Homo sapiens: one gene and its partners. The protein of the gene in region 1 interacts with the protein of each later gene in a pairwise test. Each region holds a gene or a part of one and is shown in the gene's direction. Other genes may lie near its edges. The genes, in order: KIFC3, CDK18, CWF19L2 and TFIP11.

What was found.
Region 2: the proteins of KIFC3 (region 1) and CDK18 interact in binary tests that used the Homo sapiens proteins (3 or more experiments, as listed by UniProt).
Region 3: the proteins of KIFC3 (region 1) and CWF19L2 interact in binary tests that used the Homo sapiens proteins (3 or more experiments, as listed by UniProt).
Region 4: the proteins of KIFC3 (region 1) and TFIP11 interact in binary tests that used the Homo sapiens proteins (3 or more experiments, as listed by UniProt).

The regions. Positions count from the first base shown.
Region 1 is NC_000016.10:57,757,545-57,764,491, reverse strand, and holds the end of KIFC3 (kinesin-like protein KIFC3), read left to right. Parts: intron 1-244; coding exon 245-349; intron 350-2,221; coding exon 2,222-2,352; intron 2,353-2,955; coding exon 2,956-3,079; exon of another isoform or gene 3,080-3,177; intron 3,178-3,320; coding exon 3,321-3,450; intron 3,451-3,536; coding exon 3,537-3,766; intron 3,767-4,075; coding exon 4,076-4,210; intron 4,211-4,655; coding exon 4,656-4,764; intron 4,765-5,338; coding exon 5,339-5,343; 3' UTR 5,344-5,367; intron 5,368-5,582; coding exon of another isoform or gene 5,583-5,608; 3' UTR 5,609-6,275; downstream 6,276-6,947. UniProt on the Homo sapiens protein: Minus-end microtubule-dependent motor protein. Involved in apically targeted transport. Required for zonula adherens maintenance.
Region 2 is NC_000001.11:205,506,872-205,515,445, forward strand, and holds part of CDK18 (cyclin-dependent kinase 18), read left to right. Parts: intron 1-5,445; exon of another isoform or gene 5,446-5,589; intron 5,590-8,574. UniProt on the Homo sapiens protein: May play a role in signal transduction cascades in terminally differentiated cells.
Region 3 is NC_000011.10:107,454,097-107,462,710, reverse strand, and holds the start of CWF19L2 (CWF19-like protein 2), read left to right. Parts: upstream 1-4,885; 5' UTR 4,886-4,894; coding exon 4,895-4,999; intron 5,000-6,934; coding exon 6,935-7,045; intron 7,046-8,138; coding exon 8,139-8,261; intron 8,262-8,614.
Region 4 is NC_000022.11:26,490,740-26,495,473, reverse strand, and holds the end of TFIP11 (tuftelin-interacting protein 11), read left to right. Parts: intron 1-534; coding exon 535-677; intron 678-815; exon of another isoform or gene 816-1,169; coding exon 1,170-1,335; exon of another isoform or gene 1,336-3,105; coding exon 3,106-3,461; 3' UTR 3,462-3,801; coding exon of another isoform or gene 3,802-4,011; 3' UTR 4,012-4,234; downstream 4,235-4,734. Other genes in the region: SRRD (SRR1-like protein), read right to left, coding at 3,802-4,011, 4,404-4,449. UniProt on the Homo sapiens protein: Involved in pre-mRNA splicing, specifically in spliceosome disassembly during late-stage splicing events. Intron turnover seems to proceed through reactions in two lariat-intron associated complexes termed Intron Large (IL) and Intron Small (IS).

The DNA.
Region 1 (6,947 bases):
GAGCTGGGGGAAGGGCAGCAGGCACTGGCCTGTCTTCCCTGCAGTCTTTGGGCGGCCCGGTTGCCCACTACTGTCTAATGTATGACTCATGAGTCACGAATCATTGTGAGCTGAGTGACTGCAGTAACACGTGATGTGGTGTTGCTGAAGGACAGCATGGTTGGGGAGGTGGCTGGACTTGTAGCTGGTGGTCCCAGCGGCCCTGGAAGCCCCCCCACCAGCCTCCCTCCCACCACCCTCCCAGGTGTTCCAGGAGGTGCAGGCCCTGGTCACCTCTTGCATTGATGGCTTCAATGTCTGCATCTTTGCGTACGGCCAGACGGGCGCCGGCAAGACGTACACGATGGAGGTGGGTGCTGCCCAATGGGGTGGGGGTTCACAGTGAAGCATGAAGGGAATGCGGGCTCCCTCATTGGTCTTGGGGTATTGTGCAGTGTGTGTTTTGCCTCATTTGGTCCTCACAACCCAGGAGCAGAGGCTGTAGTTATCTGTGTTAGCCCTGAGGCACCAGGCCTTAAGAGGGGGCCCCCTTGCCCAAGGGCACCCACAATGGGCCCAGCAGGACTGGGAGAGAGGCAAGGGGGGACTATCATCACAGGGATCTCGGCTTGGGGACAGAGTCTGGGGCAGGCCACCGACCTCTCTCAGGACCAGGGCTGCATTTCACCTTGAGTGTGCACTGCACACTCCTGCTTTACCGCTGCCTTGGGCCGGGCCTGGGGGATCTGGGATGAGTGGCGGGTCTCAGTCCTCAAGGAGATCCCAGGGCAAGACTGGCATATGAAGGCTGTTGTGGGGAGCCCAGCTCTTGCCGGTGGTCCCTGGGGCCAGGCCAAGGCTTCCTCTCCCTGCTCGTCACCGGCACCCTCCCAGGTGTGGTGGAGCAGGTGGCAGGCCAGGGAGAGGGGCGTTGAGACTAGGAAGGATCTTGACTGTGGGCAGAGGGCAGTGGAAAGCTAGCCCTGGCTCTGAGGGGTGCTGTGGGATTGATTCCCTAGGTCAGGAGGAGGCCAGGTGGTGTGGCGTCTGGACAGGGGAAGGGGCTAGCCAGGCCTGCTGGGCGGCCCTCTTATTTCCCATCTGGACTCTGCTGTTCCCTCGATTCTGGGACTGGTGAGACTAGTTAGTGGGGGCAGGCCAGGCCAGGCAGGAGGAGGAAGGGGATGTGTGCGGCATCCTCTGGGCTCCCCGCTCTGCTTTGGGATTGCTTAGTGTTGAGGTGACCACCAGGAACATCAGAGCGTTCATCCTCAAGTGTATCTGCTGATGCATAAGGTGTATCAGGCATCGTGCCAGGCACAGCTGTGACCCAAACAGTCCCTGCCCCCACAGAGGGCCCTCCCCACAGGGCCAACCTGGCTGTGGGGAGACAGCAGGGTCTACACAAATCAGCAAGTGTCCTGTCAGGCCAGGGAGAAAAATAAAGCCAGGAATGCGGAACTGACTAGGGGGAGGGACAGGGCATTTGGGGGTGCTGGGCGAAGGAGCAGCCTCCCTGAGGGGGCATCTTGGGAGCAGCCTCCCTGAGGGAGATGACGGAGCCGGCCAAGGGGCGGTCAGAGGAGTACCCGGGGCAGAGGGAGCTGCAGGGCTGAGGCCAAGAGGCCAGAGCATGCCAGGGGCACCTGAGGCCCAGCCAGGAGGCCCCTGTGGCCGGAATAGAGAGTGAGTGAGAGGTGCTATCAGAAGAGGGGTGAGGGCCAGGCTCCCAGGGCCTCGAGGTCCCGGGTGGGGACTCCAGGTTTCCTTCTAGAAAGGCCGGCCCACCCGTCCTTCCCCAGGACACTGGCCCGCTCCTCCTTGTGCCTCCTCTCTACCACCCACAGAGCCCAGGTCTCAGCCTCCCTGAGACTGAGCGCCTTTCTGGGCAGTGGCGGGGTCATTCATTTCCAGTGCCCCTCCCAGGTGGCCCCACAGGGCCAGGCATGCATCTGGCCCTCAGCTGCCCTGTGTGGGGTCTGGGCCAGGCCCCTCATCCCAGTGCTGCACTATAAGTCTCAGGGTAGTCCTGGCAGGGCGATGCCATTTTAATGGTGGGGAAATAGAGGTGCAGTTGCCCGCAGCTGGTGGAGGGCATTTTGGGGGACAGTGGCAGGTAGGTAAGAGCTTTGGGCAAGGAGGCTTGCTTGTGAGGGGTAGTCAAGGGGCTTTGGGGACAGACACCACACGAGCGTCTTTGGGGACAGGCCTGGCTTACTGGGGCCTTTCCTTCTGTCCCCAGGGGACCGCTGAGAACCCAGGTATCAACCAGCGGGCCCTGCAGCTGCTCTTCTCCGAGGTGCAGGAGAAGGCGTCTGACTGGGAGTACACCATCACCGTCAGCGCTGCGGAGATCTACAATGAGGTCCTCAGGTGGGAGCCCCAGGGTGTGCGGAGCAGGCCTCAGGGGCAGCTTTGGGGTCCTCCGGGGTGGTGCTGGAACGAGGTCCTCAGGTGGGACCCCCAGTATGTGGGGAGCAGGCCTCAGGGGCAGCTTTGGGATCCTCAGGGGTGGTGCTGGAGCAATGGGGGATAGGAAGTGGGGTCTTCCTGAAGGGAGTGTAGGGACCAGATGAGGCCGTCAAGGTGAAGGGAGTGTAGGGACCAGATGAGGCCGTCAAGGGACCTGGCTGCAAGTCCTGACTCAGCCCAGTGGGTTGGATGGTTCTGGGGGGAGGAGGGGCTCTCTCTGAGACCCAGGCAATCCTTGCCCCTACCTGTGGGCTACACCAGGTGGCCATGGGTGAGAGTGGGCAGCTAGGGGCCCTGCCAACAGGGGCTCATTGTATTGTGGAGTGAGATCTCCACGTCTTCAGCTGAATGCGGTGGAGGAGCTGGAGGAGGAGAGATGCACTCAGCTGATGGCTGGAGAAGGCTTCCTGGGTTGGGGGAACATTCCTGGCTGGGGGGCTGGGTGCAGTGCAAACAGCAGCTGGAAATGGGAGGAGGGGGTGACTGTCTCACCTGCCCCTCCAGGGACCTGCTAGGGAAAGAGCCTCAGGAAAAACTGGAGATCCGGCTGTGCCCAGACGGCAGTGGGCAGCTGTATGTACCAGGGCTGACTGAGTTCCAAGTGCAGAGCGTGGACGACATCAACAAGGTGTGGAGGCGGGAGCCCCTGACCACAGCCACACTGCTCTAGAGGACACAACTGGGTTTGAATGTAGGCTCTGCTGTGTCCTAAGCACGCACCCTTGGGCAAGTCCGCACGCCTCTCTGAGCCTCAGTTTCCTCATCTAAACTGCGGAGGGTGGTGCCACTCCTCATGGGTGCTTGGGGCCAGGTGACTCTGAGGACCCCATTCTCAACGCTGTGCCTCTGCCCTCCTCCCAATCCCCCAGGTGTTTGAGTTTGGCCACACTAATCGCACGACCGAGTTCACCAACCTGAACGAGCACAGCTCCCGCTCGCACGCGCTGCTCATCGTGACGGTGCGAGGCGTGGACTGCAGCACAGGCCTCCGCACCACGGGTGAGAGTGGCAGGCAGCCTGGCCTGAGGATCCCCACAACCCCAAGGGGCAGGGCAGGCCTGATCTGGTGGGTGCCTTCCCTGCAGGGAAGCTGAACCTGGTGGACTTGGCTGGCTCGGAGCGCGTGGGCAAGTCGGGGGCCGAGGGCAGCCGCCTGCGGGAGGCGCAGCACATCAACAAGTCGCTGTCGGCTCTGGGGGACGTCATTGCTGCCCTGCGCTCCCGCCAGGGCCACGTGCCCTTCCGCAACTCCAAGCTCACCTACCTGCTGCAGGATTCGCTTAGTGGTGACAGCAAGACCCTCATGGTGGTACAGGTGAGGACCTTGGGTTAGGGCGGGCCAGTCCCTAGCATGTAGGGGCTACGCTAGCAGTGAGACCCAGTCACCCCAGGCTGTGCAAATGGACCTCCCCGCCCCTAGACCTGGCCACACACACCCTGTGTAACTCCCAGTCCCTCCTCTCCACCTTTGACCACAGCACCTCTGCCATGTTGCCTGCCCTCCCACCCCATCCCTCAGGCCTCTCCAGGAAGCCTTCTGACGGCCCCAGCTGTGAGCTCCCTCTCGTGACCCTGTTGCCCCTCCAGCTGGCCCGGGTGGGCAGTGAGCTCTCGTGTCCCCTAGGTGTCCCCCGTGGAGAAGAACACTAGCGAGACGCTCTATTCCCTCAAGTTTGCTGAGAGGGTGCGCTCTGTGGAGCTGGGGCCTGGGCTACGCAGGGCAGAGCTTGGGTCCTGGTCAAGCCAGGAGCATCTAGAGGTACGGGGACTGTCACAGGCCTGGCTCAGGTGGCCCTGGGTCAGAGACTTTGGGTCATGGCAGGAGCAGGGAGCTGGGCGGGGACGTCCTGAAGCAGTGGGGGCAGGGAAGCTGCCGGAGTTGGGTGGAGCTACGGCTGGAACCCACAGCCAGCAGCCTCTTCAGTACAGGTATTTCTTCTTGGCCTCGGAGGTTCCTGTGGGGTGACGAGCTGGCCGTGGGGGTGGCACATAGTAGATGCTCAGTGGTAACTAGTTGACTTCTTTACATGAATTATCTCATTTAATTCTTGCCATAACTGAGGCTGGGGCACAAACATCATGCCCATTTTGCAGATGAGGAAACTGGGTGTTAGGAGGCAGGGCAGGGGAGTAGAGAGAAGCACAGCAGGGTGGGGAGCCAGGGCAGCCGTGGCCCCCGCCCATCCGCCCTTCCCTGCTCACAGTGGGAGCCGGCTTGTCAGACGCCACAGCCCTCGGCACGGGCCCACTCAGCCCCCAGCTCTGGGACCAGTAGCCGCCCTGGATCCATCCGGAGGAAGCTGCAGCCCTCGGGTGAGCCTGGAGTGGCAGTGTGGGTGGGGAGTCTCCCCAGGGTAATAGTCACCAGGCTGCCCTTACCTGGATGGGCTTTCTCTTTTCTTTCCTTTTTAAAAAGTTCTTACACCTTCTCCAGAACCTGTTTTACAACCTCCCCTGCCCCCAGGCAGTAGTCAGGGCAGACAGTGCTGTGTCCGTTCTGCAGGTGGGAAATGGAAGGTCTGTGGGAAGGGGGCAGTGTAAGGAGACCCCAGCCTCTCAGCCGGGGGTGCTGACTCTACCCTGGGACCCTGCTCTCTGAGCATGGGCTGGCTGAGCCTGTGCAGTAAGCCCCCTCCAGAGCAGCCCCTGCAGCCCCCTCCCTGTGCCTCAGCTGCCCCGGGGGTAGAAAGGGCCGGGCTTGCCTACCTCCTAGGTGAGGAGTGAGCCCCGCCACAGGACCGGGACCCAGGGCTCCAGCCCCTGTTTAGCCCAGATCATGGGAGGGCCTGGCCCATCCTTGAGTCCAAAGGGGTAGCAGCAGCAGGGTCTTGTGGGGTACTGGCCCAAGGCAAGCCCACCAGTGAGACGCCTGTCACTTTGATTTCAGCCTGACGGCTGGGGCTGCAGAGTCTCTAGGTGAGTGTGGGGCCTGTGGCCCAGGGCTGCCCGCCTGCCTGCCCGCAGTGGGTTGCAGGGCTGCGCTGGGACGTTCTGCTGTTCAGAGCTGGGTCTAGCCCCTGCTGTCGCTTGTCTATGTGCTTTTGCTGGGTTCCCTCCTGCTCTCGGTGGCAACTGCTGTGGGCTGCCGGTGGGCAAGTGGACAAGAGGCTGATGATCTCATGCCCCTGCAGGGAAGTCGCGGCCACTGCCTGTGTGACGGATGTGACCCCGCTGGGCCTGAAGCTGGGCCCTCACTGGCCTGTCCCTGCTGCAGCGCCAGGACCCCCGGAGGTAGAGGCGAGAGTGGAGGCTCTTCTTCTGCCCCGTCTCCCCTCAAAGATGAGAAACATGTTCAGAAGGAAACGGTGTCTCTCGGCTGTGGCTCTGAGTGCAAATTGCATGGGCGGAAAGGCGGGGGTGGCTGCTCTTCCTGGCAGGCCTGGGCCATCAGCGAACTGGGCCCCGTGAGGAGGGCGGGAGTGTGGAGGAGGGTGGGCCTCTCACCCAGGCTTTCTCGGCCCCTCTCCTCAGCTTGCAGAGCTGGCCAGCCCCCTCCTTAGGGGGTGGGCGAGGAGCCTCTGGGCAGACCCAAGAACCATGGGGACTGGGGTGGGTTGGTGGCACCAATGGCAGCCCTCCCCGCCCCTCTCCTTCAAGGAGGGTTCCCGCAGCTGGGGGGTGTGCGGAGGCGCATGGCCTCCCGCCACGGGGCCGTGCTGTGTTTATGGCTGGCAGAGGCAGCCAGCGGGTGGGGGATTCTGCTGCTCGCTCACCTGCCTGGCTCGCTGGTCTCTCGAATTTTCTTCCCTCTGAAATCCTATTTAAGAACTTTTGGAAGCTTAGCCATTTTTACTTATTAAAATAAAAGAAGCCTTTTTACACAAGTATGGTCTGAAAAAGTTGGTCTGTGAGCCCCTCTTGGTCTGATTAGGGGGACGGGGCACTGGCAGGTCTTGTGGACTCCCCCGCTGGCTGGTCACCCCACAGCCCTCTGGGATCTGTCCTCTAGGTCAGTTAGGGACATGCGTCCTTAACAAACAACTGGGGGGAGCCTGCGCTGTCCCACCCTGGGTCACTTTCTCTGTTGTTTGTGGTCACAGTCGCCTCATGCGGTACCTACCATGTGCCCACGATAACTGACCTCCCAACAGGGGCATTCCTCCATGTTACTGATGGGAAGGAAACTAAGGCTGGAGAGAGCTTCAAAGGCTATCAAAGCCTTGCCCAAACCATGCTGGGCTTCCAGGTTACTGCTGGGCACCACCCACTGCCCACTCTTTGCCCTGGCCTTTTCCCTCTTCAGTGAACTGGCCAGAGGTCCACGCCACCTTCCTCCAGTGCCGAGGACCCTGACCACCCCGGGGCGGGGCTGTACCTGGTCCCTGCCTTGGGAGCAGGAGGGGGCCCACCTGTCGCAGTGCCCACGGAGCAGGGAGCCCTTTCCCGCCAGCCAGTGCTGGGGACTCCAGCAGGGAGTGACAGCTGATCGGAGCCCTGCTCAGAGGAAGGGGCAGGTGCCCTTCTAGTCCTGCCCCTGGAGGCATCCTGGGGGTGTC
Region 2 (8,574 bases), on another chromosome or scaffold:
CAAATAGGTTCTTGGTCTGAGATCTCGTGGGATCAGGTTGCCAGCCCTGCAAACCCCCGCTCAGGTCTAGAGGACATGGAGCTGCCTTTCAGGGTGCATTTGCTTCCTCTACAGACTCGGACTCTGTCCTCTGCCTACTTGGGCCGTCCCGCACTCGGGAATGCGTCCTACACTGTAGGGCAGAGCCCGGCTTGACTCTTCCCGGTTCCTACCCTAACCAAGCCTCTACTTTCTGGGATCACCCTGTTGGGACTTTTGTCCAGCATCTCCATCTACCTGTCCTCTGATTCCTTCTGTTCTTCTCTAACTGAGCTTGAGAACTAAAGGGGAGGGCAAACTTCTGGCCTTGGTGGAATCCAGCTCCAGCATATAGTAGCTATGTGACCTTCCCCTCACTAGCACACTCGTGAATTTCTCCCAGCATCCGTTCCCTCATCTGTAAAATGAGGATCATAATAGAGGGCTGTTATAAGATTTAGGCTGGGTGCGGTGGCTCACGCCTGTAATCCCAGCACTTTGGGAGGCCGAGGTGGACGGATCACGAGGTCAGGAGATCGAGACCATCCTGGCTAACATGGTGAAACCCCATCTCTACTGAAAAAAAAAAAAAAGCACAAAATTAGTCAGGCGTGGTGGCAGGTGCCTGTAGCTACTCGGGAGGCTGAGGCAGGAGAATGGCGTGAACCCGGGAGGCGGAGGTTGTAGTGAGCCGAGATTGCACCGCTGTACTCCAGCCTGGGCGACAGAGCGAGACTCCGTCTCAAAAAAAAAAAAAAAAAAAAAAAAAAAAAATAATGCACAGTGCCTGGCATGTAGCAGAGACTAAATAACTGGTAGCTATAGTGGTTGGTGGTGCTTGTTTGGAAAGGGAATTTCCTGGTGATTGCACCAGGGCTGGTCTAGAGACCAAGGTAGATTTTCCCAGCCCCATCAGGCCAAGCCCTTAGTTAGACAGAATCTTTACTGCTCTTCCAGGTTAGGGAGGAGGGCTCTGTGTAAGAGAATGGTGGTGGTGGTAGGGGAATGGGTTGGATGGAAATCTTCCAGGAGGGGCCAGGAATCTGTGCTGTGGGGGCCCTACCTTCTGGCAGTTATGAATGAGGCAGGCACTGGGAGCTGGAGAGGCAGCAGTCTCTTGCTCTGAGGGCCCTCTGGCAGCGCCTTCTTTCCCTGAGGTAGGAGGACCCTCCCCTGGTACTTAATTAATTGCAGTCCCTGTTCTGCTCTGTTGTTCAGGGTGAGTGGCTGGCCTGGTTCCAGGCCCACCTGATTAGCCCACCTTTGGCAATAAGTCACATTTCTCTTCCTCGGCTCTGTGTCCCACCATAACCCCTTACGTCCCCTTCCCTGGACTTTTCACCTTTGCCCTCCAGGCATTCCCTGCTGAGTGGGCACTTTCCCACATCCAGGGGGTGGGAGCAGACCAAGGTTAATCTTGTCCTGGCTCCCACAGCTGCTTACACACACACAGCTGCATGCACATGCACACACAGGCTGGGCTCACAACAGCTCAGGCCAAGGGTCTGGGATCCAGGATCACTACAGAGCTGGTAGCTGGGCCTGGCTGGAGCTGGCCAGTGGTTCAGCAGCAAGTCTGGAAGAGGAAAAGCCGTGGGCGCATCTCCGCCAGACCTCCTGTCTGAAAGAGAGCCCATCTGCTCCTAGAATCTCCACAGCTACATCTGCAGAGGAGGAGGGGTAGTGAGGCAAGTGTGAGGTTTGGTTTTAAACTGAAAAGGGAGGTGGGCGGATTGCTTGAGCCCAGGAGGTCGAAACCAGACTGGGCAACATGGCAAGACCCCATCTCTAAAAAAATACAAAAATTAGCCAGGTGTGGTGGCACGCGCCTGTAGTCCCAGCTACTCGGGAGGCTGAGAGGGGAGGATCGCTTGAGCCTAGGAGGTTGAGGCTGCAGTGATCCATGATTGCATCACTGCACTCCAGCCTGGGCAACAGAACAAGAACTTGTCAAAAAAAAAATTGAAAAGGGTCTTAGGCCGGGTGTGGTGGCTCATGCCTGTAATCCCAGCACTTTGGAAGGCCAAGGCGGGTGGATCACTTGAGGCCAGGAGTTTGAGACCAGCCTGGCCAACATGATGAAACCCTGTTTCTCCTAAAAATACAAAAATTAGCTAGGCATGGTGGCGTGTGCCTGTAATCCCAGCTACTCGGGAGGCTGAGGTAGGAGGATCGCTTGAACCCAGGAGGTGGAGGTTGCAGTGAGCCGAGGTCGCACCACTGCACTCCAGCCTGGGCGAGAAACAAAACAAAACAAAACAAAAAACGGGTCTTGAAGCAAAGCTCCCTGACAGCATGAGTAACCCTGAAGAGACTGGACACCTTGCTCTGGGAGACATGGGCCAGAACTTTTGAAAGGACTATGATGAGATCCTCTTTCCTGGAGCTCTTGATAATGGTCCCACCCTCTGAGCCTCCCTACCCCCACCATTAAATAAAAGTCTTCCCTAGAAATGGTGGAGTCGGGATAGACAAGATGACCCAATAATGGCTGGCTGGTGCACTCATCATTATTTATATGTTGAGTGTATGTCTCCTGTCCACCATGGGTGGAGGCAATTTATGGACTTTGGGGTCAGTTCAGATTCTGCCTCTTCCACTCAGTAACTGGTTGCCTTAGGTTAAGTAATTTGCTCACCCAGGTTTCAGTTTCCTCATTTATAAAATAGGAGGATAATACTATTATCTCATGTGATTGCGAGGACTCCAGTGAGATAATGTCCACCTAGTAGCTCTTTGCTTTACCTGATGTCATTATCAAGGGGTGGTGGCAGAGTTAATGGGCTACATTTGGTAGTTCTCAGTGCCTTTGGCCCCACTTGATATTTTTTTCTGAAATCAGGGTCCCTGCAAACATCAGGGATCAGCCCCCAAATTGGGAAGAGAACTCTATTCTTAAAATGTTTCTGGCCAGGCACAGAGGCTCACACCTGTAATCCCAGAACTTTGGGAGGCCGAGGTAGGTGGATCACCTGAGGTCAGGAGTTCAAGACCAGCCTGGCCAACATGGCGAAACCCCATCTCTACTAAAAATACAAAAATTAGCCAGGCATGGTGGCAGGCACCTGTAATCCCAGCTACTCCAGAGGCTGAGGCACGAGAATCGCTTGAACAAGGGAGGCAGAGGTTGCAGTGAGCCAGGATTGTACCACTGCACTCCAGACTGGGTGACAGAGCAAGACTTTGTCTCAAAAAAAAAAAAAAAATTTCTACCCTCCCTCACTCTGAACACTGTTCCCCATCTTATCATTATCGAGGGAAATTCAGAGCTCCAGAATGATTACTGCCCTCACACCTTGCTTCCCTAAAGAAGCCTGCCCTTTTCTGCCTGGGGAGTCTCCTCAGGAACCAGACCTTCTTCTCTTCTCTGGCCCCAGCCACCCAGCACCCTGGGCTGCGGGGTGACCAGCCCAGGAGGTGACAGGGCTGTCCTTCCCACATCCTGGCAGGACCCACTGCCTGGAAGCAGGTGGGCGGTAGGTGTTATGCTAGAGGGCATCACTCTTGACAAAGCAGCACTGGCTCCCAAACTCTGCCTGCAACATGGGATGAGCCCAGGAAAGGGGTCACAGAGCCCCTCCCTGATCCTGCCGTGGAGCCCAGCTGGCAGCATCCCCTGCCGTGGCTGGGCTGGGTGCCATGTTCTGTGTGGGTGCCAAACCTGGCATGGCTCCTTCCCAAGGAAGGTGGCCCTTGGGGATGCTGTGACTTTCTTGGCTGTGGTGACCAATAAAGGGAGTGCCATCTCTACGCAGGCCCATGCAGTCCCTTCCAACCCTGCACAAAGTCAGAAGCCCAAAGTGTGGTCCCAGCTCTGCCCTGTCACCCTCAGTGGCCTCGGGCAGATCGCTCACCTTTCTGAGTCTTGCCTTCTTTGCCTGAAACATGAGGGTGCAGACCAGGGGATTTCCAAAGGCCCCTCTGAGGCTGCTGGTCTGAGGCTCCGACTTTTGCCTGTCCTGCTAACAAGGTGAGCTGTGTGCTGGGGTCCCAAGAGGGGCTCAGCCTCCTGTTCCTCCAAACTGTAGAGCCAGGGGCTTGCCCCAGCTGATGGCTGGGTACCTGGTCCCTGCCATGCTGAGATGGGCAAGGAAATCCTGGAATGCCTCAGCCCTGTCAATTAGGAGGAGAACAACTACCTCGCAAAGAAATGGATGCTGGATTCAAACACTACACAGGCACTGGATGCTCAAGGCTAGGGGTTGGCAAACCATGGCTCTTGGCCAAGTCCCGACAGTTTTTGTATGGCCCATGAGCTAAGAATGATTTTTACATTTTTAAGCAGTCGGTAAAAAGTCAAAAGAAGAAAATAAAGTTTTGTGACCCTTAAACATTTTATAAAATTCAAATGTTAGTGTTCATAGTAAAGTTTTACTGGTGTGAGGCCAAACTCATTCATTTACATCTTGCCTGTGGGTGCTTTTGTGCTGCAAAGGCAGAGTGGCAGAGTGGCGACAGAGACGATGGCCCGCAAAGCCTAAAATAGTGGCTGTCTGGCCTCTTACAGAAAAGGTTTGCTGACCCCTGCTCAAGATAATCATAGTTCTCTCCAGGCCTTGCACTAAACTGCTCCAGGATCTCAATCTAAAAGTACTTTCTTTTCATTTAAAAAGAAGTGTTGCTATTTTCTTCTTATGTAAGCAATAAATGTTCATTATGGAAATATTAGAAGATGCAGATAAGCAAAAAGAAGACATTAAAATCACCCATAATTCTATCACCCAGGAATAACTACTGCTGGTGTTTTGACTTACCACCTTCTGGGTTATCTAACAGTGTGCTGTGTTTATATGTGCATGCCTGTGACACATGTGTATATCCTGCATACGTACAGCTTTTACAAACTGTACACATCTGTCCTCTTCACTTAAAAACACATCTTGGCCAGGTGCGGTGGCTCACACCTATAATCCTAGCACTTTGGGAGGCCGAGGCGGGCGGATTACCTGAGTTCAGGAGTTTGAGACTAGCCTGGGTAACATGGTGAAACCCCATCTCTACTAAAATACAAAAAATTAGCTGGGTGTGGTGTCGTGCGCTTGTAGTCCCAGCTACTTGGGAGGCTGAGGCAGGAGAATTGCTTGAACCCGGGAGACAGAAGTTGCACTGAGCCAAGATCACGCCACTGCACTCCAGCCTGGGTGACTCCGTCTCCAAAAGAAAACACACACACACATACCTCTAACTGAACCCTTGGGGGACACACAGGCAGGGTGCCCAGAAGGCAGCTGCACCCAAGCATCTGGAGCTGAGGGGCTTGGTGGGGCCAGGGCTACAGATCTGGAGTCATCAGCACGCGGGTGGTGGTTTCCACTTCGGGAGGGGATGAGGTCACCCAGGAAGCATGCCCAGAGAGGAAGAGCAAAGGGCCAAAGAGAGAATTGTGGGAGTGTTGACATTCAAGGGACAGGTAGAGGAAGTAAGTCCACCAGACCCGGGAGGAAGGAAGAAGCAGGAGGAGACCCAGGCAGCCAAAGGGAGTGGAATCCGAGGCCCAGGGCCCAGGACAGTGCCTGGCGCTGAGCAGGTGCTTGTGAAATGAGTGAGTGACTTTGAGGAGGCTGAACCCTGGTGAGTGAGTGACACTGATAAAAGACATTTAGAGAACAGTTGAACAACTATGAGATGTTCAGAGGCCTGGGGGAGGCCATGCAGGCCAAGGAGGCCTCCTGGGCCCAGCCTGGTGGGAGGGAGGCCATGCGGAGTGTGAGGAGGGAGAGGCGGGGCAATCCAAGTGACCAGAAGCTGGGAGCTGGTCAGAGGAGCCCAGTGGAGTTCTTGGCGGTGACATGAAGCTGCTTTTTTTAAGCTAGTCTCTCAGATTGGAATGAGGAAAGTTGGAGACGACCAGCCAGGGGTTCTTGTCAGAATGTGGGCACTGGGCGGCGTGGGCCAGCTGGTGGGGGTGGAGTATAAATAGGAATATGGTTTAGAGATGCTGGGAAATCCTCCCCATTCCCTCCCCCTCCTGAGACTGAGAGGTCCCCAGGGATGCCAGGCTCAAAGGCCCCTGCAGTTCTGTTGCCAAAGTTGGGCATGGAGAGAAACCCAGAGACAGGACTGAAGGTCCCATGACAGGCCAGCAGGAGAGCTGGACACGGGATATCTGGCTGAGAGAGGGCTATTGGGTGGGTGAACTCAACACTCTTCTTTTCTTCTCCAATTTATTGTGTAAAAGATGGTAGGCACCAGTTTCTGTGCCAGAGCAAGTGGAGAGGAAACAAGCTGTTTCCTCTGGTATTTAAGGAAGACCTAAGGAAAGGTTCCAGACTTTGGGATCTCAAAAACACAGGACAGTTGGGGAAGGACCTTCCTTGAGTGTCTTTAAAGAGGGCTGATAAAAGGAGCAGAGAGGGCTCCTCTGGCTGGGAGAGTAAGGCGGGCTTTCTCTGGAGGCAGGAGGATGGGGGAGATGGAGGCCAGGCCTATCCTGGCCCTTGCCCCTTGCTCTGGTCTCTGATCTGGGATGTTCTGTACGCCCAGGACCAGAACTGACAGAAGGGCTCCTTGTCCCATCTTATCACTTGGACATCCTGAGCCTCCTCAGAGAGTGCAGACCAGCTTTAGCTGGGCCCCCAAAAAAGGTCAAAAGGAAAATACCAGAAGATGCAATATGCACCTCTATTCCTTAAGCCTCAGGAAGCCAGAGAGCAGCAGGGTGGACATCAGTAGGACTGAAGTGGAGCCACACAGAGGGGCTAGATAGGAGGTCGTGTGGGGTCAGAAAGGGTCATCTGTAGGGGTCAAGGCCAACATCTGAGCCTGAGTAGTGCACCTGCCCTACAAGGCTCTGAGAATCTTCCCTGAGTGATAGAGCCAGGAAGAGGGCCACAAGCCCCTCCGAACCCCTTCCCCACAGCCCTGGAGGCCCTAGCTCAATGCATGTTGCAGGAGGAACTTCTCATTCGGGTTCTTCTCATTCCAGTCCACCCCTCACTGTAGGATGGTGCCTCCAGCCCAAAAACCTCCACAGACCTCACTGGGGGAGTAATTGCTGGGCAGGACACTGCCCCCACTGCCTCAGCCCATCTCCCGCTGCTGTTGGGCCACATGCTGGCTAGAGGAAGAGGGTCAGGTTTCAGCTGAGGCCTCGAGTCCAGCTTTCATATTTCATTTGCTGGTCATTTGAGGGCTCACTTTGTCTCAGGCTTTGGGTCAGGCTCTGGGGGTGCAATGACGAGTCACGCCACAGTGCTTGCCCTTAAAAAGCCCACAGGCAAACTAGGGAAATGACAAGTAAACAGTTACAGGACAGGGAGCCAAGTGCCCTGCCTTGGGATGTCAGAAAGCTGTGGGAGCACAGAAGAGGGACCATCACCTGGCTGGGGACAGTGGAGTTTCGGGCTAGAGGAGATGCAGAGGTCCCCATGGCAGGATGAGTAGCACGTTGTTGGTTTCTCCCTAGTCCCCCATCCATCTGCTTGGGTACCAATCCCTGTATTCCTGTTCCCTCTGAAACCCAAGAAAACTGAGGAGGAAGCATGCCCCGGGGAGTCTGGGGCTGGGTGACTGGACAGTCTAGGCTTACTCTAGTGTGCCCAGAAAGAGGACAGGGCCAGGCCCACCCCAATCATGCTCAAGTCTAACTAGGACAGGAGATGGCCTAATGAGAAGATACACCTAGAAACAGGTCCCTGGCCTGCCTGAAAGTGGAAGGAAAGGCACCAACATTTATTGCACGTGGCAGTGTGTCCTGGATCTTAAAGGTGACTAAGATACAGTCTTTGTCCTTGAGGGATCTAATGTTTCCATATCTGTAGAGGAAAGAGGTTTAAACAAGTCATCATGAAGCAGTGGCTCGATGGCCTCATTCAGTCACTTGTTCATTCGTTCCACAAATGCTGAGTACCTGGTGGGCTCCTTACTCTGTGTAAGGCATCAGGGAAACAAAAATGTTAAGGCCCCATTCTTGTCCTGAAGGATCTCACAGTCTAGTTATGAGTGTGTGCTGGCTGCTCTGGAAGGGACAAGGAGGAAGCATCTCATTCTACCTAGAGGAAGAAGGTGTGGTCATGCACAGTCTCCCAGGGGAAGTGACCCATGAGTTGAGTTTGGGAGTGGTTTTACCGAGGGAAAAATTGAGGAAGGGCATCCCAGGCCAAATGATTGCAAAGCTGTGGGGTGTGAGTGGAGTTTGCTCTGGGAATGCCAGGTACATTTGATAAAACCAGACCTTCTGGGGAGGGGTGAGAGCTGAGGCTCAAGAAGACAGGGATCCAAAAGCCTGGTCTGCCAGGCCCTGGAATTTGAACTTTTTCCTGAAGGCAGTGTTAGCTTTGAAGGATTTTTTTTTTTTTTTTTTTTTGAGATGGAGTCTCGCTGCAACACCCAGGCTGGAGTGCAGTGGCGCCATTTCGGCTCACCGCAAACTCTGCCTCCTGGGTTCAAGCGATACTCCTGCCTCAGCCTCCCAAGTAGCTGAGATTACAGGCGTGTGCCACCATGCCCAGCTGATTTTTGTATTTTTAGTAGAGACAGGGTTTCACCATATTGGCCAGTCTGGTCTTGAACTCCCGACCTCAGGTGGTCCACCCACCTTGACCTCCCACAGTGCTG
Region 3 (8,614 bases), on another chromosome or scaffold:
TCTTTAATAAACTAGGTATTGATCGAATGTATCTCAAAATAATAAGAGCTATTTATGACAAACCCACAGCAAATATCATACTGAATGGGCAAAAACTGGAGGCATTCCCTTTGAAAACCGGCACAAGACAGGGATGCCCTCTCTCACCACTCCTATTCAACATTGAATATTGGAAGTTCTGACCAGGGTAATCAGGCAAGAGAAAGAAATAAAGGGTATTCTAATAGCAAGAGAGGAAGTCAAATTGTCTCTGTTAGCAGATGACATGATTGTATATTTAGAAAACCCCACCGTCTCAGCCCAAAATCTCCTTAAGCTGATAAGCAACTTCAGCAAAGTCTCAGGATACAAAATCAATGTGCAAAAATCACAAGCATTCCTATACACCAATAACAGACAAACAGAGAGCCAAATCATGAGTGAACTCCCATTCACAATTGCTACAAAGAGAATAAAATACCTAGGAATACAACTTATAAGAGATGTGAAGGAACTCTTCAAGGAGAACTACAAACCACTGCTCAAGGAAATAAGAGAGGACACAAACAAATGGAAAAACATTCCATGCTCATGGATAGGAAGAATCAATACTGTAAAAATGACCATACTGTCCAAAGTAATTTATAGGTGCAATGCTATCCCCATCAAGTTACCATTGACTTTCTTCACAGAATTAGAAAAAACTACTTTAAATTTCATATGGAACAAAAAAAGAGCCTGCATAGCCAAGACAATCCTAAGCAAAAAGAACAAAGCTGGAGGCATCACATTACCTGACTTCAAACTATACTACAAGGCTACAGTAACCAAAACAACATGGTGCTAGTACCAAAACAGATATATAGACCAATGGAACAGAACAGAGGCCTCAGAAATAACACCACACATCCACAACCATCTGATCTTTGACAAACCTGACAAAATCAAGAAATGGAGAAAGGATTCCCTATTTAATAAATGGTGTTGGGAAAACTGGCTAGGCATATGCAGAACACTGAAACTGGACCCCTTCCTTACACCTTATACAAAAATTAACTCAAGATGGATTAAAGACTTAAATGTAAGACCTAAAACCATAAAAACCCTAGAAGAAAACCTAGGCAATACCATTCAGGACATAGGCTTGGGCAAACACTTCATGACTAAAACACCAAAAGCAATGGCAACAAAAGCCGAAATTGGCAAATGGGATCTAATTAAACTAAAGAGCTTATGCACAGCAAAAGAAACTATCATCAGTGAACAGGCAACCTACAGAATGGGAGAAAATTTTTGCAATCTGTTCATCTGACAAAGGGCTAATATCCAGAATCTACAAAGAACTTCAACAAATTTACAAGAAAAAAACAACCCCATCAGAAAGTGGGCTAAGGGTATGAACAGACACTTTTCAAAAGAAGACATTTATGCAGCCAATAAACATATGAAAAAAAGCTCATCTTCACTGGTCATTAGAGAAATGCCAATCAAACCACAATGAGATACCATCTCATGCCAATTAGAATGGCGATCATTAAAAAGCCAGGAGACAACAGATGCTGGAGAGGATGTAGAGAAATAGGAATGCTTTTACACTGTTGGTGGGAGTGTAAACTAGTTCAACCATTGTGGAAGACAGTGTGGTGATTCCTCAAGGATCTAGAACCAGAAATAACATTTGTCCCAGCAATCCCATTACTGGGTATATACCCAAAGGATTATAAATCATTCTACTATAAAGACATGCACACGTACGTTTATCTCTGCACTGTTCACAATAGCAAAGACTTGGAACCAACCCGAATGCCCATCAATGATAGACTGGTTTAAGAAAATGTGTTACATATACACCATGGAATACTATGCAGCCATAAAAAGGATGAGTTTATGTCCTTTGCAGGGACATGGATGAAGCTGGAAACCATCATTCTCAGCAAACTAACACAAGAACAGAAAACCAAACACCGCATGTACTCATAAGTGGGAGTTGAACAATGAGAACACATGGACACAGAGAGGGAACATCACACACCAGGGCCTGTTGGGGGGTGAGGGGCTGGGGGAGGGATAGCATTAGGAGAAATACCTAATGTAGATGACGGGTTGATGGGTGCAGCATACCTCCATACCACGTGTATACCTATGTAACAAACCTGCACATTCTGTACATGTACCCCAGAACTTAAAGTATATATATATATATATATATATATATATATATATATATATATATATATATATATATAAAGAATGTGGGTACATGTCTAAAGGACACAGGAACCAGCTTGAAAGGGCTCTCACTGGCCTAACCTGGACCAATTTGAGGATCAAAATAAATACTGATAACGAATTTTTATCCCACTGAACAAAAACAGGAATCCACTGAGAAATTATGAATCTGTATTATATAAAAATAAATAACTTGAAAATTTGGTACATGATCTACATAGTTTCAAAGAACCACTTCACAAAATACTTATTATAGAAGGAAAAGAGGTACTTTACAGCAGAGAAGCTCTGCAGATGCCAGTTTATTTAAATGATCAGAATTAACATCACCTGTAATGGAACAAATGGAAATCATGCGCTACCCAACAGGATGCAGTAAGACCGCCTCACTTCTGTGATCGTCCTGCTTAAGAGGCCAAATTTGAATTTAATCACAAAAGAACCTCCGACAAACCCAAGTTGAGTGACATTCTATAACACAACTATCCTGCAATCTTCATGAAACTTTTGTAGTTAATTGTGATCATCTGACCTATTTCTGGATCATAGGATTTAAATGAAAGAAACTGAACTAGGCTTTAGGAAAAGCCATCATTTTTCTAATAAAAAATGAGGCCAGCTTAGCTAACAACGTTTACCCTTTGTCCTTTCTCTTTATTCTTGTTTATCAGATGCCGTGAACAGATGTGAAAGAATATGATACCCTGCTTGTGACTACAAATACTAAAGTCACAGACTGCAACAAAGCGAAAAAGGATAAACTATTTGGCTCCTTCAGCAATTGCACCAAGCCTGGACCAGTTACTTTTAGGCTCCTTGTTACGTTATCCTTTATTTGATTAAGCCATGTGACTGGATTCGCATTAGGTGTGGCCAAATGCAAACCTAGCCAAAATAACCTGCTTTTTCTTTCTTTTCTTTTCTTTTCTTTTTTCTATTTTAACATATCTAGTTCCCCTCTCTAACCCCAACTTTTTTTTGGGCAGTTTTATTTGTATTGCATGGTATTTACAAATTAATTGAGAAATGATTTTTTATGATGTTTTCTTCTTTAAGCACATAGTATACCTCTCCATTCGTTCTAGTCTTTTTGGGGAGCTTATGCAAGATTTTAAAGTTTTCTTCATATAACTTTGCACATTGCTCTAGACCGAATGTTTGTTTCCCCAAAATTCTTATGTTGAAATCTAATCCCCAATGTGCTGGTATATGGAGGTAGGGACTCTGGGAGGTGATTAGGTCATGAGAGCAGCACCCTCATGAATTCCTATAAAAGAAGTTCTAGAGAGATCCCTCTCCCTTTCCGCCATATGAGACACAGCAAAAATACTGCCCTCTAGGAACCAGGACACACCTTCACTAGACAGCAAATAGCCCAACACCTTGATTTTATCCAGCCTCCAGAACTGTAAGACATACTTGTTTGTTATTTATAAGCCATCCATTCTATAATATTTTGTTATAGCAGCCTGAACTGATTAAAACACACACGTTTCTAATATAATCACAGTTTATTTTTATTGAATTGATGCAAAACAGTGAAATGGATGTTTTTCTGAATTCCAAGAGAATCTGAAAAGACGTTGATGCTAGTTATGACAAATATCAGTCAATGTAGTCAGTTGATTAAATATTACAAGGTCGATTAGTAAATTACATTTTAAAATAAAATGAATACTTTCTATTGCATATCAAACAAGTAGGCATTGTGTGTTCAAGATTCAGACTCATAGAATGGTAGTGAATGTAAAAACTCTTGGAAAGCTTCTTGCAAACACACATTAAATTTTATGAAACCTGAAGAGAAAGAGTATTTACCTCAACCTGGCTTATGTTACTTATTTTTAGCGTCTTTAAGGTATCGTTTATAATTAATTCCCCAGCCTTCTTCTTCTTGTAAATGTAAGCTTAGTGTCTTATGTTCTCAAAGCACTTCATCACCTTAGAATGTCTTATTCTTCTGAACTTAAAAGTTTTATGTTTGGGCGATACATGCGTAAAACAAAACAAAGAAATCTCCGCAGAAATAAATAAGTAACTGTCCATTGTAATGAAAAATGCTTGGATGGATAAGTATGAGTAAATAATATGGGGTCAGAGGAAAAAATATAATGTAAACTTCTAACAAGTTAAGCACGGGTAAATTGTGAAGTGCAATGCAAAATTCACATGAGTGTTTCATATATTAAGTAAAATCCACCAAAACAAAACACTGAATCTTCAAGGCAATTCTGTCCTTCCTGCCAGCTGCCACTACCTTTCTGGCAGCCTCCCTTTATCCCATTCCTCCAGCACAGGGAAATGATGCTCTGGCGACAAAGGGTACTTCCGCAGAAAACTTTTGAGAGGTACCAACTTAACTTCCAAGAGCTTGTAACTTACTCCGGTGATTTTAAGACGAAATTGGTGAGAAAGCTGTTAATATAGTAAAAAGTGCATAATAAATATATACGGGTATTAATCCTGCTCACAATCGCACCCAACACCTGAAAGAATTAAACCCTCCAACACCCTTCGGGTCTTTAAAATCTGGGCTGCGGTAATCCGAGCCCTAAGCGACCTCAGATGTGCGCATGCCCTGTTGGTGGAGCCGTGCTCCTCCTTCCTCGGGTCCGGAAGTCCCGGTTTGTTTGTTAAATTACGACCGTCGTAAACTAGAATTTTCTTGCGGCTTCTTAGCTTTACGATGGCAACAAGTATGGCGGCTGCTAGTGGTAGATTTGAAAGTGCGAAGAGTATCGAAGAGCGGAAAGAACAGACCCGGAATGCCAGGGCCGAGGTGTTGCGCCAGGTACCTCTGTTTTGGGGCTTTTGTAGTTATTTATTGTTGTGGGAGTTGAGGGTTCCCGTAAGCTAGCCCACTCACCCCTTCCCTTACCTCGTCAGTACTGAATCTCACCTTAATTTGGGTGAGTTCTCCCTTTGCAATGCCGGTAAACCCTTTTGTAGCTACCGATTTTTTAGATGTTCTGGCAGGTGCCAGTTGCTAATTCTCTTTTCAGGCAGATCTGTCGCTTTTTCTCCAAGTTTCTTTACCTTTTAAGTTACCCATTCTTTACATTTCTATCACTCGGACTGCACACTTTGTAGGTCCCCTGCGGCTTGTAAGGACTCTGCCAGCATGTCTCGCAGCCTCAGTCATTGCTACTGCTGTATCTGAAATGAGATTTTCCTTTTTCGGAAACACATTCAAGTCACACTTGAATAGACTCAGTTTGACATTTCCTCCTCCTGTCTCTATTGGTATCAATTCCAGACTTACTGTAAGCTCTTACCAATCCAAACAAAAGTTAACACCAATCTCAGTATATTTAGCCTGTCACAAAAGATCGCGAAACATTGTATTTCTCACTAAACTTCAGATACATAGAGGTAACATACAAAGAATGGAGAAAGTAAGCTTCTGAATTATCTGACAATCTATTCAATATGTAAGAAGTGTGGCAATGAAAGAGAAAAGTTGCAGTTGGAGAGCAACAGAGAATTCAGTGAGGGTTTTTGTTTTTATTTAAGTTGGAAGAGTTTTAAACAAGTTTAAATGCAAATGAGAAGGAGCCAGCAGAGAAGAGGGAGAGGAGACTCTAAAGGGAAAATGACATAGTTTCAAAATTTGGCAAATAATTTGAGGGTGAAGCAGCCCCATTCTCCTTTAATCTCCAATTTTCTCACCCTGTTCTTTGGAGTCCATCATAAGCCCTGCTCTTTTCTCTGATATCGATTTTTCTGTTTGGTATATAACCATTGTATTCATCTTCTTGCCTACACCAAGAATTATTATATGCACCCAGGGAAAAGCTAGCTGCAGAATGTTGGACTACCTCTCCATGATTTTCCCTTTTCTGGAATATTAACTCTTCTAGTTCTTGTTGCTTCAGCAGTTCTCTGATATAAACCTTTAATAAATTATTTTTATATTTGATTAAAAAAAAAAAGAAAATGACTACAGCCAGGTTTTAAAGGGGAAGAGTGGGCGATTAGTCTTGGGTAGGTGAAATGTTGGTATTGTTTCGTAATTTCAACATATGTAATGTGTGTGTGTGGGTATATATATATTATTCATTCTTTTCTCTTTGGTATTTCCAGCAGTTTTTGGAGGGAGTAAGTTTCGTAAGTTGAGATAAATCTTATAGTAGAGATATGCATAGAATTTGAAAAGGACCAAACTGAGCTTTGGAGTTACAGGGAAAGAAAGAGGGCAGGAACGATTTCCTAGGAAAAACTTGCTTTGTTTGACTATCATTGAAGAATGGATAAAAATTACCAATATGATCCTTTCTTTATACAGAGATGATTCTTCCTGAGGCATTTTTGGGGCTGGGTATTGGGGCTACAGGCATTGCATATTGAAGGCGTGGAGGTCTAACTGTTGCAAAAGTCTTAAGGCAGTAGCCATGGGAATGGTGAAGGGAAAAGGGATTCCAAGTCATATTGAGCTAGGGAGCTTAGAGAGATGGGAGGGCCTGGACTCAGTCCCTGGATTCTCTCTGATTGGTAACTCAAATCACTGGAGATTGGAAATGCAGAAGGAGAGATTTTTGCTTTGTTTTGTTTATTTATTTATTTTTTTATTTTTTTACACTGGAGAAGCAAATCCCTGGCAAGGAATAGACATTCATTCATGAGTGGATATTTTTGTATAAAAATGACAGAGGTTTTTGTTTTCCTTTTTTTGTGAAACCCAGTTGGGTCAATTGCCAGTTTGTCTTTTTTTTTTCTTTGGTTGTAGGCTAAAGCCAATTTTGAAAAAGAAGAAAGGCGTAAAGAACTTAAGCGACTTCGGGGTGAGGATACATGGATGCTACCTGATGTGAATGAGAGAATTGAACAGTTCTCACAGGTGAATACTAACAGGTTTACGTGATGTAAGGATATCTGTCCTTTTTTGCACGTATTCAAGTTAATATTGGATGAATAATTTTATAGAATGTTTTCATAAGTTACAAAATGAATATCACATAGTTGGCATTGCTGAATAGTTTCATCTCTTTGGCAGAGGTAAGATATTGTAATATTTTGGACATTATGACTCAAGTTTTGTTATTTGAGTTTGGCTAGTAGAAGACAGCTTCAAATTTCTGGCCCACTATAGCAAGCTTATAGGCCTAAAAATTTATGCATTTTAAGCTTTATGTATTTATTTTATTTTATTTTTTTAGGTCTCAAGCCTGTTTTCCTATAATTTTTTTAAAAATTATTTTTAATTGACAAATAATAATTGTGTAAATTTATGGGTTAGAGTGTGATGGTTTGATCTATGTATACATTATAGAAAGATTCAGTCAAGCTAATGAACATATCCATCACCTCATCAACTTATTTTTTTGTGGTGAGAACGTTAAAAGTCTGTTCTTCAATGGCTTTGAAATAGATAATACCTTATTATTAAATGTGGTCATCAGTAATAGATCACTAAAACTTATTTCTAGTGTCATGAAAACTTTGTACCCTTTGATCAACATCTTCCCTTTCCCTATCCTTGCTCCTTCCCCTAGCCTCTTCCTATAATTTTAATTTGTGCTATCTTGTTATATTTTTTATGGCCTAATAGTCTTGTATAAATTTTTGGGGAGACCATAGAGGGATATTATATGTATGTGTGTTTGTGTGTGTATAGATGCATGTATACATGTTTGTGTATATATGTGTTTATTTGATTATATTTGTCACATTAATCTACAAATAAAGCCAAAATTTTCCCAGTATTTTTCTGGTAAGAAGTCTCAGTTATATGATTTATTGATAGTGCATATATTATAGAAGGTGTGTTAAGATTTCCTGAAAGATTTTATTTATTTAGACATATTCTTGGTCTTATTTCATCAGAGATTGAAAGTTTTTTAGAATGTGGTTTATTTTTTTTCTCTCAGAATACATCCTTTTAAATTAAGATGAAATTAAATTATTTTCTTGCCTGTTCAAAATGATTGTAGGAACACTCTGTGAAGAAAAAGAAGAAAAAAGACAAGCATTCAAAAAAAGCAAAGAAAGAAAAGAAAAAAAAGAGCAAGAAACAGAAATATGAAAAAAACAATGAGTCATCTGATAGCTCATCAGTAAGTATGTACTAAAATTAATCAAAGCAGCTATTTGAGAACATTTTATTTGAATGTGTAACTTATGGGAAGTTAAAATACAAGAAAACGTAAAAAATATATTACTAGTTATGATATGAAAATATCTGGGATACATCTACTTAGAGATGTCCAGAAAATATTGGAAATGTTGATCTTGAATTTCAGAGAAAGGCTAAGAGGATAGGGATATGATTTGGGAATTATTGCTAAGCACAGCACTGGATCTTGCCCAAGGCCTGCTGTAACAATTACCTGGCTACAGCTGGTGTTCACTCAAGGCCCTGGGGCTCTGCAATCAGCAGGTGATGAAGCCAGCCAGGCCTGCGTCTTTC
Region 4 (4,734 bases), on another chromosome or scaffold:
TGAAACCCCATCTCTACCAAAAATACAAACCAGCCAGGTGTGGTGGCGGGCGCCTGTCGTCCCAGCTACTAGGGAGGCTGAGGCGGGAGGATGGCTTGAACCTCGGAGGCAGAGGTTGCAGTGAGCCAAGATCTGCCATTGCACTTCAGCCTGGGCAACAGTGAGACCCTGTCTCAACAAAAAAAAAAAAAAAAAAAAAAAAAAAAAAAAAAAGCCAGGAGTTGTGACTTATGCCTGTAATCCCAGCCCTTTGGGAGGCTGAGGTGGGCAGATCACCTGAGACCAGGAGTTTGAGACCAGCCTGGGCAACATGCCAAAACGCTGTCTCTAATAAAAACACAAAAATTAGTTGGCCACGGTGGTGCACACCTGTACTCCCAGCTACTCGGGAGGCTGAGGCACAAGAGTCACTTGAACCCGGGAGGCGGAGGTTGCTGTAAGCTGAGATGAAAACGGACATTGTCTTTGCTCTTTGTGCTTCTTTGGCTTTGCCAGTACTAAAGCTGTGCCTTACAGACCGGGTTTCTCTTCCAGGGATGTGTCTTGGTGAGCTAGTCATTAACCCCCACCAGCAGCACATGGATGCATTCTATTGGGTGATTGACTGGGAAGGGATGATCTCTGTCTCTAGCCTGGTGGGACTTCTTGAAAAGCACTTCTTCCCCAAGTGGCTTCAGGTACACTTTGTTTTGCTTGGATTTCTGGGGGAGGGAACTGGGTGGGGATTAAGTTAATTTTCTGCCAAGGCCTGACTGTAGGTACAATTCCATAATGAAAATAAATTACATGGTAGGGTAGGAATGAGTTAGGTCATCTTCATAGTGGGCACCATTTATTGGACATTTGCCATGTATCAGAAGCTGTTCCAAGCACTTTATTTGCTTTATCTCAGCTCCTCTCAGCAACCCTATGGGGTAGGGGATATGGTATCCCTGTTGTGTAGACATGGAAGCTGAGGCTCAGAGAGTTTACATGCAAGGGCACTTTAGCTACCAGGCTGACTCCAAAATCCATATTCATAAGTGCTAGACTGTTTAGCTACTATAAATCCCTGTAAAGTAGTGTCACTAGCCTGTAGGACCAGGATCAAAACAAAACAAATGGCCACTTCAGAAATCTTGCCTTCATTTGTTGCCACGATGGATGCAAGTAATTTTTCTTTTTGGCAGGTGCTGTGCTCTTGGCTCAGTAACAGCCCAAATTATGAGGAGATCACCAAGTGGTACCTGGGTTGGAAGTCGATGTTCTCAGACCAAGTGCTGGCACATCCATCTGTCAAGGACAAATTTAATGAGGCACTTGATATCATGAACCGGGCGGTGTCCTCCAACGTTGGTAAGTGAGGATTCCCATTTTGGATGTCCTGGCCCCAAGTTTCAGATTTTACACATGTAAATGACACAGAATCAGAGTTTTCTGGTTCCTGTAGGCAGCCTAAACCTTAGGTCACACTTTTGCACATAGCAACAGACTCTCACCCTGCTGACTGGGGTACATGGTCAGCTGGCACCCACTGCCCAGGTCTACCATGACTGAGAGGGGCATCTTCCCTGAGTGGAGACTGACTTAAGCTGGATTCAGATGATGTCAGTCTAACCCCAGGCCCCGCCCTCTTAACCACTGTGCTGTGTGGCCTTTTAAGGCTCATTCATGCCTGAGCATGCTGCTTAGGTGACGCATCTTACAGTGTGGAGTTTGGCACGCGGTCTGACACTTGGTGATTGCTCAGCCTTAATCAGCCCCATTTTACCTGTTAAACAGTAAGATCTACTTTATAGGCTAAAAGGGAGAGTGAGTTCATGCTTGTGTATAGCCTTCAATAGGTGGTGTCTGTGTTGTCAAAAACAGGCAGTTCACTGTTCGTGTACTATATCTGTTCCCAAGTTCTAGGTAAGTCATTCTGCCTAGATCATAAGTAAGTGAGAGTATATTTATGTTTCTACATTTGGGAGCCTATTTCAACCAGTCCTGTGCTCCAGTGTTGCTCATTAGCCGATTCGCAGCATTGAAATGGGATCGTCTAGTCTGTGTTTTACAGATAAGCCCAGCGAGGCTGAGAGCCTGTTCAAGGTCACATAGTTAAAGGGTGGCAGTTAGAACTGGAATTTCTATTTCCTGAGTCTTTAATTCTTGTTATTTAATAGCCTAGGCCAGGCACGGTGGCTCACGCCTGTAATCCTAGCACTTTGGGAGGCCGAGGCGGGTAGATCACGAGGTCAGGAGTTCGAGACCAGCCTGACCAACATGGTGAAACCCCGTCTCTACTAAAAATGCAAAAATTAGCCGGGCGCGGTGGCACATGCCTGTAATGCCAGCTACTTAGGAGGCTGAGGCAGAAGAATCGCTTAAACCTGGGAGGCAGAGGTTGTAGTGAGCCGAGATTGCAAGCACTGCACTCCAGCCTAGGTGACAAGAGCGAGACTCGGTCTCAAAAAAAAAAAAAGAAAAATAGCCTATTCTGTGAAAACAGAGATTAAGTAATAAGGCAAATATACTTCTCTGCTTCTGTAATTATCAAGTTTTTTCTAAAAACTCTTCCTTAGCTACCCTTGGCCTCATGTTTCCAAAACTGTTCCCTGAATATACCCCTCAATTAGCACTTAGCATTTATGGTCTTGGTATTATCCTTTAAACACTCATTTCAGCTCCCTAAATATATGTGAACTTCTTTCAGGATGGGGGCCCTGTGTGGGTAGGTTAAAAATAAAGCCAGTATGGGCCCTATGTTTTCAAGGTACTAAAAGCTGCCTCTTTGGTGGTGGGAAATGGAAACTCTACAGAGCAAGGTGGGAACAGAAGAGTGGCTGAGGACTCTCTGTTAATGTTTCCAGCTCTGAAGGAAGAAATCCCTTGCAGATACTTCATTTTAAAATGTTGAATATTAATAATCTGGTTACTAGATACTAGCCAGGAACCTTCTGAACAGTTTTTATGTGATACTGGCCAGTCGTCTAAACTTCCTCCAAAGTTGTATCTTTGAGGCAGAGCTGCCCTTCAGTGAGTCACAAGCACTCTGGCACACCCAAGACCTGGGCCAAGCCACAGTGTCAACTTCCATACACCTGGAAACACCTCTCCTCACCGCCCTGTCCTCCTGTATCTTAGGTGCCTACATGCAGCCAGGAGCACGGGAGAACATTGCCTATCTCACCCACACGGAGCGGAGGAAGGACTTCCAGTACGAGGCCATGCAGGAGAGGCGGGAGGCTGAGAACATGGCTCAGAGGGGCATTGGCGTGGCCGCTAGCTCTGTGCCCATGAACTTTAAGGACCTCATTGAGACCAAGGCTGAGGAGCACAACATTGTCTTCATGCCCGTCATTGGGAAGCGACACGAAGGGAAGCAGCTCTACACCTTTGGCCGCATTGTGATCTACATCGACCGGGGAGTGGTCTTTGTCCAGGGCGAGAAGACGTGGGTGCCCACCTCACTGCAGAGCCTGATCGACATGGCCAAGTGAACTGTGGCAGGTCCAGAACCAGTCAGAGACTTGCCCCTAAGAGGGATGTACTGTAAATAAACAGTATTTTTAGATCACCTTCAAAAGGGTAACTTCTTTACTCAGGAGCTACTCCACATCAGGCCAGGTCATGAGGGAAGGATGTAAAATGGGACAATGCCACGTAGGGCAGGAATCTTTATACCAAGTCCTCATGTGGGGTATCGTCCTCAAAACAGGACAGCCAAGTTGATGTTCTTTCCTGGCAAAGGAGTTCTCTGTAGTTCCTCCATAGCAGCCTTCCCTTTAGTCTCTGGTGGCAGCTTCTACCTCAGCCAACACTGAGTACCTCACAACGAGTTCAGTCAGTAGCAGAAGGATCTTCTCTCTTGTTCCTGATGATTTCAAGGTCCTCACAGTCCTGATAATCTGGTTCTTCCCGAAACTCCCAAATATCTATGGAGAGCTGTTCTAGCTTTTGCACAGGGAACCAGTGGACAGAGGTATCATTAAATATGTCCATGTATTGTGAAGTCTGAGGAAACTCAAGCTCCTCCAGTCCTTTTAAAATCTGAGCAGAAAAATTCAAGTATAAAAACTTCAGATAGTCACAGTAATCCCCACTCTTCTGGGATAAATTTCCACTTTACTTGTCATCCCCACTTTACTTTTTAAAAAAATAACAAATAGGGTATTTTGATTTAAATGCTTTTGCACAATGAATTGGGCGCCCCAAGGACAGTGGATATCATGGACTGTGATACTAAGAATAAAGGAAATAAGGAAAAAACTAAGAGATGCATTAAAGAGTCATAGCTTTCTGGAACACAGACCCATGGAGAGAGCTGACAGTACACTAGCGCCACTTAGCCCATGAGTTTCCTCCTACGCCTGTAAAGAAAGATAGAATTCTTCACAGTTTCACACCCTTTTCCATCCCAGCCCCTTTATTCAGATAGATACCTTTGCAATGTAGGGATAATTTTTCTGCAGAATCCTTGCCAACAACCTAGAAATTAAAAAAAACCAAAAAAACAAAAAAAAAACACCATGATTAGGAGGTATGAGGATAGTTTCATTCAACTTTTAAGACACATAGAAGGGCAAGATGATTGAAGCATAGTAAGAATTCAGGAAAAAACTCAAGATGTGGAGTAAACCAGTTAAATAGTTGAAAATGTGGGCCAGGCGCAGGTAATCCCAGCACTTCAGGAGACTGAGGCGGGCGGATCATTTGAGGTCAGGAGTTCAAGACCAGCATGGCCAACATGGTAAAACCCCATCTCTACTAAAA